Homo sapiens: one gene and its partners. The protein of the gene in region 1 purifies or fractionates together with the protein of each later gene. This does not show direct contact. Each region holds a gene or a part of one and is shown on either strand. Other genes may lie near its edges.

Region 1 (3,500 bases):
AAGACAATCCAGTCTCTTCAAAGGAAAAATACCCCACTCATAGCCCTTGCTAAAGGAGCATCCCTTGGGCAGCCAGGTTTTGTACCATGTGACCCTGTGTCTTATTCCCGGAGCCACACTGATTAGGCCACAGGTGGGTAATGCACACATGACTAGTAGATTGAGATGTGATCTGGCTTGAAAAGATGACATCCTTCCTTGGGAATGTGAACTAAGAAATGTCAGGACAAGTGGGTGACGAGCTGAAAGGATATCATGAAAGGACGTCCTGAAGCAGCCACAAGGATCGGGGAACCAAAGTTACCAGCAGCAGAACCCATGGGCACATGGGAGGTACAAGGTAGAGAAAAGGTCATAATAGACCACGGGACCAGAGGCAGGCAGGGGGAAGCCCAGCGCAGTCCCATCAGCGGTGAAACACTGACGCAAAGACCTAAGAATTCCTGGGGAAGCCCTCACCTCGCCTAGCACCACCCATGGGCTCCAATTTCCATGCAAACCATCCTTATTTATTCATAGATTGCCATAATACTCTAACTCTCTTGGGCTCTGTGCAAGATCTTATCACTAATTCCCTTTACTGGGATTAGCTAAGTCTCAGTTTTTCACAATCAAGAGTCTAATTAAAACAACAGACCAGGCACGGTGGCACATGTCTGTAATCCCAGCACTTTGGGAAGCCGAGGTGGAAGGATCACTTGAGGCCAGGAGTTCTCAAGACCAGCCTGGGCAACATAGCAAGACCTCTGTCTCTATAAAAATAAAAAAATATAAAAATAAAACAAGAGCATTAAATCCCACATTTCTGGGATTTATGGTGGCTGGGAGATGGTGTGGTCCTGGTGAGGAGGAGGAAAAGGCATATTTGCGGTGCACTGACCATTCTCCAACAGTCAAGGGGATATGGTCACTGCTTCTTGTGACTCATTCATTCATCCTTCTATTCAACCAGCATTTATTCAGCACCAACTACTTACATCAAGCACAGAAAAACTGTCAGACACTGTCTTTGTCCTCCAGAAGCTATAGCTTAGCACAGAGAACAAACAAGTAAATGAGATAATATTTCACTCCAGGATGCATTAAGAGCAGCAAAGCGATATGCACAGCAATCCATGAGAGCACCTCAGAGGCTCACCTAACCCAGCAGGGAGGGATGGAAGGAGGAACTCTGCAGCTTTCTTGACAGGAGTGGGATCTAAGCTAAGTTTTCATTTGTGGGAGGAGCTAGAACATTCTAAATCTTGAGAAAAAAACCTCAAGTTTTTCAAAAAGAAGGAGGCAGGTCTTTACATGGAAAGGATTAACAACAAAAATTAGCTTAGAATGGTAGAAGTCTAGGCTGTGAGCAGTGCTGTGGGGAAGATGAGGGAAAAGAGGTAGGCAGAGGCCAGTTTCATCGAGGAGAGCTTTGCATGGCCCTTTCTCCACAGGCATGGAGATTACTGAAGGATTTGGGTGTGGACATGTCATCACATCCGTGCTTTAAAAAATCACTGTGACTTATAGCAAGGGCCTTGAAACATACTGTTTGACCCAGCAATTCTCTCCTAGGAATTTATACTAGGAAATAAGTAATGATATATGATATATACACAGCTTTTTATGACTCATCATTAACACTAACCCTTATTGACAGCTATGTTCCAGGGCACTTCCTAAGCACTTTATATGTATTATCTCATTTAATCTTTTCAATAAGGCAGCAAAAATTTGAAATACCTTAAACATCTGGAGACTTGGTTAAATAATTTATGGCCCAGTCCATACATATAATGGAACACTATTAAACATCATCTTGGCCTGGCACGGTGGCTCACGCCTGTAATCCCAGCACTTTGGGAGGCCAAGACATGCGGATCATGAGGTCAAGAGATGGAGACCATCCTGGCCAAAATGGTGAAACCCAGTCTCTACTAACAATACAAAAAAATTAGCTGGGCGTGGTGGCGTGTGCCTTTAGTCCCAGCTACTTGGGAGGCTGAGGCAGGAGAATTGGTTGACCCTGGGAGGCGGAGGTTGCAGTGAGCCAAGATCGTGCCACTGCACTCCAGCCTGGCGACAGAGCAAGACTCCATCTCAAACAAACCAAACCAAAACAAAAAAACCCATCATCTTAATAACAACTAGCATTATTGAGTATTTTCTATTTGCCAGGTACTGTGCTAAGTGCTTTTTATAAGGCTAATTTAACTCCATCCTCATAAATCAATAAGGTAGGCACTATTTTACAGATTAGGAAATTAAGGCTTTGTAAGAATCTGAGGTAGAACTTGAAACCATGTCTGCCTGGGAGGTTTTAACTTTCATGCTACCATGATTTATTTTCATGAAAAGATAGCCACATCAATTACAGACCAATAGACTAGAACAGAAAATCCCAAAACATATCCAAACATTAGGGAAGCCTGATGTATGACTGAGGTGGCATTACAAGTCACTGGGGAGAAGATCACTAGTGATAAACTGCAAACAACTTCAATGTCCATTAATCAGATAAAGGATTTGTGAATATATATACATTATCTCATATATGAATATTATATATGAATATGTGTATTATACATTATATATGAATATTATACATTATCTCATGTTAACAGAGATAAATTACAAAAACATAATTACTGGGCAAAAAATAAGTTATAGAATGACTTACTGTATAATATTTACATAAAATTTAAAAACAGGTAAATAATACCTACAAAAATCTATTAACACATGGGACAATAAGCAGCAAATGTGTACATATCTGAGAAGAAAGGGAAATAAGACTGGGGAAGGATACCCAGGATACTTCAGCTTTATCTGTAATGCTTTGTTTCTTACAAAAAAAAAAAAAATCAACAACTGAAAAAAAACCACAAAGAACGGCCAGGTGCAGTGGCTCACACCTGTAATCCCAGCACTTTGGGAGACCGAGGCGTGTGGATCACTTGAGGTTAGGAGTTCAAGACCAGCTTGGCCAACATGGTGAAATCCCGTCTCTACTAAAAATACAAAAATTAGCCAGGCATGATGGCACGTGGCTGTAGTGCCAGCTACCCTGGAGGCTGAGGCAGGAGAATTGCTTGAACCCAGAAGGCAGAGGTTGCAGTGAGCTGAGCTCACGCCACTGCACTCCAGCCTGGGTGACAGAGTGAGACTCCATCTAAAAAAAAAAAAAAAAACCACAAAGAAATTCAAAACACTTGAAGAATGCACACTTTTAAAATTACATATTTGTACATGCACATTATGTATAGAAAAAGGAAAAACACATAATAAAATGTAAATGAAATTTGAGTGGTGAGTTATAAGTTATTTTTATTTTCTTACCATTCTTCATATATTTTTTTCAACAAGAGTAAGTCCTTATTTTGGTGTACAGAAAAAAATAACAGGAAGGAAAGAAGGGTGGTGTGCAGAAAAGTCACAGCAGACCTGAGACTGCTATTCCTAGAAAGTTCTGCTTGCATGCTGGCCCTTCGCTGGCAGCTGGAAACTTCGATTTTGAGAGG
Region 2 (3,500 bases), on another chromosome or scaffold:
TTTCTCTTGTGACTTCGCTTGGCAGCTTTCCCGTGCTTCCCTTCGGCCAAATCCTCCTGCTCCAGAGTCAGCTCAGGCTGCAGAAAAATCGGTTTCAGCCGAGAACCAGGTTAGTCGGTCACGTCAGGCAGCGGCCAGGGCAGCCCCAGCACTGCCCTGGACACACTCTCCAATCAGTGGGGACGCTTGTGGGCCACCGAGCTGCCACAAGAAACAGTGACCACAGCTGGGTCTTGTATTTCTAAGGATCGGGGCAAGTTCCTTTAGTTGCAGATTTAAAAAAAAAATACATGCAAGTCATATTTTTAAAAGTTGTATTTTATGCTAAAATGTAAACACTTCTTAGAAACTTAACGTTTTAAGCCACTGGGTATTTCCAAAGGGAAATGTTTCTGCCCGGGTGAGCTGCTAGAGCAAGGCTGAAAATGCTTTCAAATCAGGGCTCTCTCTTCCCCAGGGCTGAGACGAATCCACCATAAAAAACAATTTTGAATTAAAACAGATTTGACCACAAAACCTGCAGGGACAGGGAACGAGGGCCCAGCTGCAGTGGTGAGCCCAGTGGGCCCCTCCCCGCACGATTCCCTGCAAGTGTCCAGGACACTGCTGGGCTGTGACCACATCCTCTGAACCGGGCCGGCTCACCAGGCTCGCTCAGGCTCACAGAGGCCGCGGGGCAGTGGTGGCCGGTGAGTGGTCACCTGCCACTCCTCTTGGGCTTCCTGTGCCATTCCACACAACCTGATCCTAACCCAGTGGCAGACAGACCCAGCGTGGGCCTACACCGCTGTCATGGTGGGACGACCCGTCCCCCCCATGCCTGTGACTTGCCAAGGGTAGAAATGGCCTGTGGGTTCTGGGGCTGGGGCTGGAGCCGCCGTACGTCACTCAGCCGGACCCAGTGCCCTTCATGAAGACTGCACTCTAAAGCGCTGTTTCAGAACGAGAGGCATACATGTGATCTTAGACCACTGAGAGCATGGCACGTTCTCTTTGAAATAAAAAAAAATTTTGCTAACTGAAAGTTTAGTATTAACTAAAAATTTCTTTAAAAACTAAGTTCATCTAATTGGTATGTTTAAACTTATTTTGCTTAGAACATTTTAATGATTGTTCTGATTTTTTTTTTTTTTTTTTTCAGACACAGTCTCGCTCTGTTGCCTGGGCTGGAGCGCAGTGGCACAATCTCGGCTCATTGCAACCTCCGCCCCTGGGTTCAAGCAATTCTCCTGCCTCAGCCTCCTGAGTAGCTGGGATTACAGGCGTGCACTACCACATTTGGCTAATTTTTGTACTTTTAGTAGAGACAGGGTTTTGCCACGTTGGCCAGGCTGGTCTTGAACTCCTGACCTCAAGTGATCTGCCCGCCTTGGCCTCCCAAATTGCTGGGATTACAGGCGTGAGCCACCGCGCCCAGCCAATTGTTCTAATTTCTATTTTTTTCTGGAAAACATCTGTTTTCCAAAGTGAGATACACCAGTATTCAACAAACTGAGGTCACAGAAACTACAGAAACGAGGAGATGATCTAAGAGGTTCTGAGGGGAAGAGAAGCCAAGAAAACAGGGTAACCTGGCCACAGGCTTGCCCAGAGCTGCTCCCTCCCGGCCTGTCCAAGCCCCTCTGGTCCCTTCTGCAGGTGTCCACTTACCCCAAAGTTTCTGAGCCCCTGGGGCCCCATGCTGCTCACCTGGACGATGCCAATGGAGGAGGCGTCGATGGTGGTGGTCTCCGGGAGGTGGTCCAGGTCATCGATCCTCACCGCGAGCACCTATGAGGAGCACAGGGCATGAGCTGGGGGTCAGGGTGCTGCTGATGCAGGTGGGAACCCAGAAGCCACACACGCCTTGGGACCACCTCCACCACTCCTGCCCTTCCCTCCCAGGCATCCCCCGCACTTCCCAGTCTCCTCTGTTCAGCTCTGACTTTGAAACTCTGTGTCCAGAAGCCCAGGGCTTATCCTCACCCCTTATTTCATGCTCCCACAATGGTCTTGCCCCTGTATCATCTCACGTCCACTCCCCCAGTGGGGAGACTATGTCCTCCCTTTTTGGCCCCCCACCAAAGGGGTGAGGTTTCAGTGGCGCTTCTGTTATTTCCAAGGGAGACCACAGCAAGGTAAAGATACAGTAGAGTAAACTTGTTCTATGAGCAATCACCAAAAATGAGACATTTGTGCCTTACACATCGTACTTTTCAGTTGAATCCATACACAAGTGCTTTCATTTGTTGGTTTTGTGATGAAGTGACGCCCTGCCCCTACCTTCCCTCCAATGGCCCCACTGAACGGGGTCCTCAGCACGCCCCATGTGTCCACAGGGGCCCTCCCACCAGCTCAGTGCGTCCTGCCCAAAAGTGAGTGACCTTCACCGCCCACACCCTGCTTACAGCAGTTGCGTTTGTTCCTGTGATGACCTAATTAGATCATAAGAAAGACAACGGACAACGAGTACAGAGACAGCCGAACGTGATAAAGGGGAGGGGCTGCAAAACAAAATTAGCAAGAGTCTGCCTGTAAGGGTGCTTCACCCAAACAGCTTTGCAAACATCTTTAAATTTCTGATCAACTAAAGGAAGTTAAAATGAAAAAGCAGACTATGCTTTGTGGATGTAACTCATTTAAAAAAGGAGAGAAGTGCATCATTAAATTTACATTCCATGACTAGGTCTGGGCCCCTTCCTGGAAAAGATGGCAAACAAAGGCTGGTCTGTAAGTGTTTTAAGTTAACATAAATCCTGCAATGGCTTTGAAGACTCCAGTGTAACTCTCATTGACACTGAGCACAGATCTATACTGTGACACTCGCAAAGGACCCTGAGCAAAAGCAACCAGACTGCTGTGGACGCACTCTCTACCGTCACCACCATCACCACCATAAGCACCACCACCACCATCATCATTACCACCTCTATCATCAGTATCATCACCATCAACACCAACACCACCACCACCAACACAACCACCTCCATCACCATTACCAACACCATCACCACCAACACAACCACCTCCATCACCATTAACAACACCATCACCACCCCCTCCATCACTATCATTACCCTCATCACCACCAACACTGTCACCACCATCATCAGTACCACTACCACCACGTGGCATCACCACCACTGCCATTCCTATCACCACTATCACCACCACCACCACCATCACCACCACCATCACCACCACCACCATCACCACCACCATCACCACCACCACCATCACCATCACCACCACCATCACCACCACCACCATCACCACCACCATCACCACCACCACCACCACCATCACCACCACCATCACCACCACCACCACCATCACCATCACCACCACCATCACCACCACCACCATCACCACCACCACCATCACCATCACCATCACCATCACCACCATCACTACCACCATCACCACCACCACCATCACCACCACCCATCACCACCACCACCATCACCATCACCACCACCATCACCACCACCACCATCACCACCACCACCATCACCATCACC
Region 3 (3,500 bases), on another chromosome or scaffold:
GACTGCTAATATATTTAGTTCACAGTTAACTTCATAAGTGAGTGACAAACTATGAGAGGTAGACTGATTTTAAAAAATGCTTTGGCTAAGCCTAATTGACCTATATATATTTCTCAGGAAATGTAGGTGAGCATAGTAGCAGTGGGAAGAAAACAGGAAACTTTTGCACACTGATTCTAAACTACAAAACCTGCTAGACCCATAATACAGATTCAATTCTGCCTTTAAGGATAGTCAAAAAAGATTGAAGAGGAACACCAAAATAATGTGAACTCGGTTTAACTTAAGAATTCAACTTAAGATTTAAATAGGATACATGTACATGGCTGCAGATTTAAAGCATAAAATAATCAGTCTGTAAACATGAGGTTATACATAAAAAATAGTCAAGTGTAAAATATAAGACTGCATCCCTAAATCAGACACATCACTTTGCCTACCAGCTTCTCAATCACAGAAAAATAAAGACACTATCAATTTCTTAATTAGTCCTAATTATACAGTTAAGTTATATTCAGTAGGGACTGCATATTTATTCTCAATAAACATCCAAAAAAAAGTATTTGCCTCTAACCTTAACTAATCAATCTTAATTATCAATCACAAATGCTTCCCCTTACCCTTGCCACCCCCCCACCCCCCCACCCCCCCCACACACACACAGAGAGAGAGAGAGAGAGAGAGGGAGAGAGAGCGCAAGTGTGTGTATCGTTGATCCAAGCAGTCCAGATTTCTTTCAGGTCCACAGATACACCAAATGTATTCTTTCCCTCACTTTTCAGGCCTTCACCTATGTTTTTTCCTCTCTGACTATAACATTCTCCCACTTTCCTGATCTGACTCACTTCTAATAATCCTTCAGATCCCAGTATAGATGTCACTTCCTCCAAGAAGCCTTCAATAATCAACCTCTTGTTTTTTGTTGTTGTTTGTTAAAAATCCTTCACCTACACTCTCATAGCACCCTAGATATCTATACTAGCTTATCCACTGTTTTGTAATTAATTTCTTTTCCATATCGCCATTAAACTGGAAGATTAGAACAGAGAAGATATTCTTGATGCTCACCGCTACCCCAGCTCTCAGGATAATGCATGACTGATATTTGCTAAATGAAATACTACAGAGCTCTATGTATTAAAAAAACCTTCTCTAAAAATTAGATTTTTTAAATCTATGTGAAGTTAACTGAGGAGTCAAAAATGAGACTTTAAAACTTTTTTAATTCCACTTACATAGTTAACAAATGAGAAAAATAAGGTGTGTCTCAGTCCACAAACAGAGATAATAAAAGTTTTTCCCTTAGTTTCAGACACCACTTAAGATTTTTTTATTTTTTCCCATGGAGACAGAATGGCTTTCTTCAAAGTCAGCTACCATTTTCTGATTGCTCTGCTCACTTACAATTGGACACAGCCAACTCTAAGTGCCTCTGTCAATAGCTAAAACTTCCTGTCACCTGAGACAACAGACATGGTCATCCAGACAGCAACATAAAGTTCCTCCACAGCTCTTGATGCTGAGAAACAGAGAGCCATGCTGACTTCCTTCTTCTTTTCCTATATTGCTCTCTTTCTTGCCTTAGGGTTTTAAATTATCTTAGAAATCACCACTTACTGCTTACATAGATCAGTACCTTTCAAACATCCAGCCCTCCAAAGGAAAGGCTTTTGATAGCTAAAGATTAATGACTGTATATTCCAGATTTTCACCCCTAATAGGTGCTCAATAAAAATTACTTAAACTTCATCAAGGGTTTATCTTGTGTTATTCTTTAATGGCAAGTGCATTGCATGTACTGGTGAAAATGTTTAAAATATTTTTTCAAAAGGAATCAGTATTCAATTTTACATTAGGTTGGATGGCAGTCACATTACAATATGACAATATTAATTCTAACTCTTCTATGCTAGACAAAGACAAGGTTTCATTTTCTTACTTAATGCACTGACATTTTGGTCAATGCCCATTTTAAGTGATGACAAGAATGCTTCTTAAATGGTATACTGCTTGCTTACTATTGGCTCAAATATAAACTCAATCTTCTTTAGGATGACCACTTAACTACAATATCATCAAAACACTGCAAGTAAATAAATGTACGTTCCTCATCACAACTCCTGAAGGAAATTTCTTACTGATCATCCTTAACGTAAGGATTCAAAGATACAAAGAAAACTTAAGAAATTGAAAGTTCTATCCTAAAACTATCACCTGTAAGGGCTGGTTAAATATATATATATGTTAATTATAGAGCACTGCCACATACCACAATAAACTTAAGTAGAATACAATTATCTTAGGACAGTGCCTACTTGGGGAATCTTTTAGTTTAATCTAACAAACACTTATTGAGCACACATTAAATACCAGGTACACTGTTACTCATTGGAAATATGAAAGATACGGTCTTTCCCCCACTGAGAAACTCAGACCAATATAAATGGCTGTTGTCTTGGGAACGTAACACCAGATGACATGCTTTGAATATGAATGTAAGGAAAACAAATCTACTTTTTTCTTATAAAAAAAAGTCCCATTTTAAATTTCCTATAACTGCTATATAACAACAAAAAAAGAAAAAGCCATCATAGGTATGGCACTCTCCTATGTACCTCAGAAAAATCACGTCCACCCTACGCTTTGCCTTCAGAATCAGGACTGAAGCATCACCATTCAGTCAGAGCTTAAACTAATTGCAATTAAAGTTGTTTTAAGGAGAAAAAAAAAAGCCTAAGTTAAATGACCAAACCCAAATTTAGAAAGATAATGACAGCAAACATCACATGAAGCTAATTCTCATTTTTCATTACCATACAATTAAAGTTACAATTTATTCCTCCCTAAGAGTCAAAAAAAGAGTTCCCTGCATGTACTGCTCTAGCATATTCTACATGTAGAATCTTTTTTCTACAAATTATATATTTCTCTTCTTACAATATTATATATTTCAAGAACTTAAAAAGAAGATGTCAGCTTCATATTAAAGACCAGTCTTGAATACCAGACAAAATTATCCTTCTCTTTTCCCCTCATTTTTCTCTTTCTAACCATAGGGGCATTCCATAGTTCCTTTGCCTCTAGCACACAACTAAGAAATTCTGAAAGAATATTGAACTCAACTAAACCAATTTAATAAACACATAAAAGATATTTAATAAATATGTAAAGGTAGTACACTTTTTATCTGCTATTTAAAATTTTGTTTTGGTTTGGGGAGAGAGGTCAAAGAGGAAGGAAGATAAACTGAAAGTGTTATAGAGAGGAGGGAAATTTGAAGACACCATATTAGAAACATGATCCTATCAGAATGACACAGCCAAAGCCAAACTACACAAAGGGTAAGGCACAGTCAAGGTAGTAGAAGAAACCAGGGGTTCAGAGCAAACAGCAGGTCTCAAGTCAGCCAATCATCAGGAATTTCCAAGTGGAAAACCTGCAGCTGCAAAACCTGCAGGCTTCTTAAAAAATGAGGCATCTATCTATGGACTGATGTCAAC
Region 4 (3,500 bases), on another chromosome or scaffold:
GTCGCACCACTGAACTCCAGCCTGGGTGACAGAGTGAGACTCTGTCTCAAAACAGGAAAGAAAAAAAAAAGTAATAGCACTTCATACTCCTTAGGATGGCTATTATTAAAAAAAAAAATCAGAAAACACAAAATGATAGAGGATGTGAGAAATTTGAACCCATGTGCACTGCTGGCAGAAATGAAAAATGGCACAGCTGCTACAAAAAATGGTATGATCGTTCCTCCAAAAATTAAACATAGAATTACCATATGATCCAGCAATTCTACTTCTGATTATATACCCCCGAGGAACTGAAAACAGGGTCTCAAAGTGGTATCTGTACACCATGTTTACAGCAGCATTATTCACAATAGCCAAACTGGAAATGGCCCAAATATCCATCGACAGATGAATGGATAAAAAATTTATAATTATATACATACAATGAAATATTCATTCTGACATATGCTATAACATGGATGAACCCTGAGGACATCATGCTAAGTGAAATAAGCCAGTCAGAAAAGGATAAATATTGTACGATTCCACTTATATGAAGTACCTAGGGTTGTCAAATTCATACAAACAGAAAGCAGAATGTTAGTTGCCAGGGGCTGGGGAAAGAAGGGAATGGGAGTTATTGTGGCTTTTTTTAGAAATTTTAAAATATTGGTTTTTTTTTAAAGAAATGGCACTGAGGACCATAAATTAAATTATACATAGTTTTGCATCAATAATAAATTTTCTGTATTAATTGTCTTGTGATTATGTAAGAGAATGGCCTTGTTCTGAGGAGATACATGCTGATATATTCAGGTGTGAAATGTCATGATATTTACATATATCAAATGCTTTAAACACCAAAATGTTCTACGTGTGTGTGAGTAGCTGCATGTATACATAGAGAGAAAGAAAGTGCTAAAGCAATTGGGACAAAATGTTAACAGCTGATAAATCTAAACAATTTTATGTTTGTTTCTTTTCCTTAAAAAAAAGCTTTGTTAATTAGTTTTTAGAAAAATGATATACACTTTTTTAAACCTGGGGGGGGGGGCAATAGTGCTAAGCATAAAAATTGAATTGCAAACACTGCATGTATACTACCATTATAATTATGTAAAAATGGTGTATACATATGCATGAAGTTTGGAAGGGAAAATGAAGAGTTTTACACGGCAAGGTAGAGTGATTATGGCAGTTTTTCTTTCCTTGTGATTTCTGCTGATTTGAAAGTTCACACAATTGGCCGGGTGCAGTGGCTCATGCTTGTAATCCCAGCACTTTGAAAGGCTGAGGCAGGGAGATTACCTTAGGTAAGGAGTTCAAGGCCAGCCTGGCCAACATGGCGAAACCCCGTCTCTAATTTATACAAAAATTAGCTGGGTGTGGTGGTGCACACCTGTAATCCCAGCTACTCGGGAGGCTGAGGCAGGAGAATCACTTGAACCTGGGAGGCAGAGGTTGCAGTGAGCTGAGATCACGCCACTGTACTCCAGCTTGGGTGACAGAGAGAGACTCTGTCTCAAAAAAAAAAAAAAAAAAAGAGTTCACACAATTGAAAAAGAAAAGGCCTTTACCTCTGGGCCCTGGGGGATTCTTCTGCATGTGCTTGCTGTTGCAGATGTCCTGGATGTTCTGGACCACGTCGGGGTTCAGCCCGTGCTCCCTCATGATGGCCAGCACCTTTCTGTCCATCAGGTTATGGGACCGGAGGCAGTTGGGAAAACGACAGTTCCCTCGGGTGAAGTGGTCACAGATGTGGAGTCTTGAACACGGTGGCTGCTGGTTACAAATCTGCTGCCGACCCTCTCCCTTATAACTTTTGCATATCTACAGAAGGGAGAAACAACAGCCAGAGTCAAAACACCTTCTTGTATTTGCCAAACATTCATTAAGGCAAGCTCACGTGTGCAAAAATCTCTGAAGCAAGCAGAGATATACCAAAGGGGGAAAAATACATGCATATTCTGCAGTCTTTGATGAGTCACATTCAGTTGGTGATTTACTTGGGGCAGAAGAGGTCCACAGACTAACCAAAAGATACTGATCAATTTGATAACCCTTGGAAGAATCAATGTAAGCTGGTTAGCTACAAACAGGACCCAAAGTGAGCCCTATATCATGAAGGAACCCAGCACAGGAAGGCTCATCTTTGGTTATCAACTCACTTTGCAATGAAAAGGACATGTGGGTCTTACCTGCAACTGTTTGGAAATCCAAAATTTAGACTCTGCTAGGCAGAATGACATTTCTCAAAAGATTGCCTAAAGAAGATAAGTTTTGTATTTCCATCTAAATAGATACATGTACGTGACTAGCTCTGAAGAGATGTAGTCCCTACTGGAAAGAGGGCAGAGAAAATACTGCAGCTGAGGCCACGCCATATGATACAGAACTGGAGGATGCTGGTTTTAAAATCTGAGGCCCTGGAAGCAGCTGTGTGACCTCAAGGGATCCCTTACCTACTCTTAGCCTCCGTTTCCTTTGCTGTAACAGGAGGAAAAGATTTGTTCTGTCTACAAAAACCAAGTTGTTAAGCAGACTAAATAGCAAAATTTGTAAATGCGTTATGCAAAATATAAAGTGTGATGCACGTGTTTGAACCATGAAATGAGGAAACCAATATAATTAGTAAGAAACCTGAATTTCAGACATTTTAATGAGTCACTTCGATAGACTCTGAGCAAACCAGATCAGTATGGTTCACTGTGATCTGTCTAGATGGCAAGCCATGATTCAAACCCCACTAGCAATGATTTTGCCACATGGATAATCGCTAAAACCTGATTCAAATAGATATATGTAACTGCTATCAAGTCTATGATCCAGATTCTAGACTCTAGACCAGCAATTCTCAAAGTGTGGTCCCCGGACCAGCACCATCAGCACTACCTGTAAATTTGTTAGAAATGCAAATCTTCAGGCACTTGCCCATATCTATAGAGTCTGAACCATCAGAGGTGGGGCCCAACAGTCTGTGTTTTAACAAACCTTCTGGATGATTCTGATGTCCGCTAAAGTTTGAGCTGTAGCAAAAAAGCACCATTAGCAACTTCACAAATGATGTTTTGGTAACATTCCTATTCCCACGCCGATATTAAGCAAGAATGCTCCTGCCTTCATTAGACCAGAACAAATGAAAGCATTTCTTCCTTTAAGAAGCACATTTCAATTGTACAAGTTTATATATCAGGCAGTCAGGTTTGCCTGATCTTTTTATGTTCTCACAAGTCAAAGCAAAATGAAAAAGTGTGAATACGTAGTTTTTTAGGGCTGAGTGTGTGGCTTCCCACTGGTTACCTCCAGTATTTTAACATTGTGACTAACACTTGCAGGTGCTTTTAAATGTTAGTTGAATGAATGCAAAGCAATCAATGAAGTGACTGGAAACATTTCACTGTGGTCCCCATCTCACACCCCCTAAACCACAAAGCTGTTTCTCTGCACTGCCTCTTACACTTAACTTCGCCCCTCTCTTCCTCCTCTTTCCTTCTGATAAAATCCAAATCAGCCAGGCA

The links. Proteins that work in one complex are often made in the same cells at the same time.
Region 2: the proteins of ZNF2 (region 1) and PRDM15 purify together in Homo sapiens (affinity purification with mass spectrometry; 2 studies listed by BioGRID and IntAct, with this or other methods). This does not show direct contact.
Region 3: the proteins of ZNF2 (region 1) and ZNF800 purify together in Homo sapiens (affinity purification with mass spectrometry; 2 studies listed by BioGRID and IntAct, with this or other methods). This does not show direct contact.
Region 4: the proteins of ZNF2 (region 1) and ZC3HAV1 purify together in Homo sapiens (affinity purification with mass spectrometry; 2 studies listed by BioGRID and IntAct, with this or other methods). This does not show direct contact.

The regions. Positions count from the first base shown.
Region 1 is NC_000002.12:95,172,309-95,175,808, reverse strand, and holds part of ZNF2 (zinc finger protein 2), read right to left. Parts: intron 1-3,500. UniProt on the Homo sapiens protein: May be involved in transcriptional regulation.
Region 2 is NC_000021.9:41,802,845-41,806,344, forward strand, and holds part of PRDM15 (PR domain zinc finger protein 15), read right to left. Parts: intron 1,771-3,500; coding exon 1,690-1,770; intron 78-1,689; coding exon 1-77. UniProt on the Homo sapiens protein: Sequence-specific DNA-binding transcriptional regulator. Plays a role as a molecular node in a transcriptional network regulating embryonic development and cell fate decision.
Region 3 is NC_000007.14:127,379,209-127,382,708, forward strand, and holds part of ZNF800 (zinc finger protein 800), read right to left. Parts: intron 1-3,500. UniProt on the Homo sapiens protein: May be involved in transcriptional regulation.
Region 4 is NC_000007.14:139,082,221-139,085,720, forward strand, and holds part of ZC3HAV1 (zinc finger CCCH-type antiviral protein 1), read right to left. Parts: intron 1,813-3,500; coding exon 1,560-1,812; intron 1-1,559.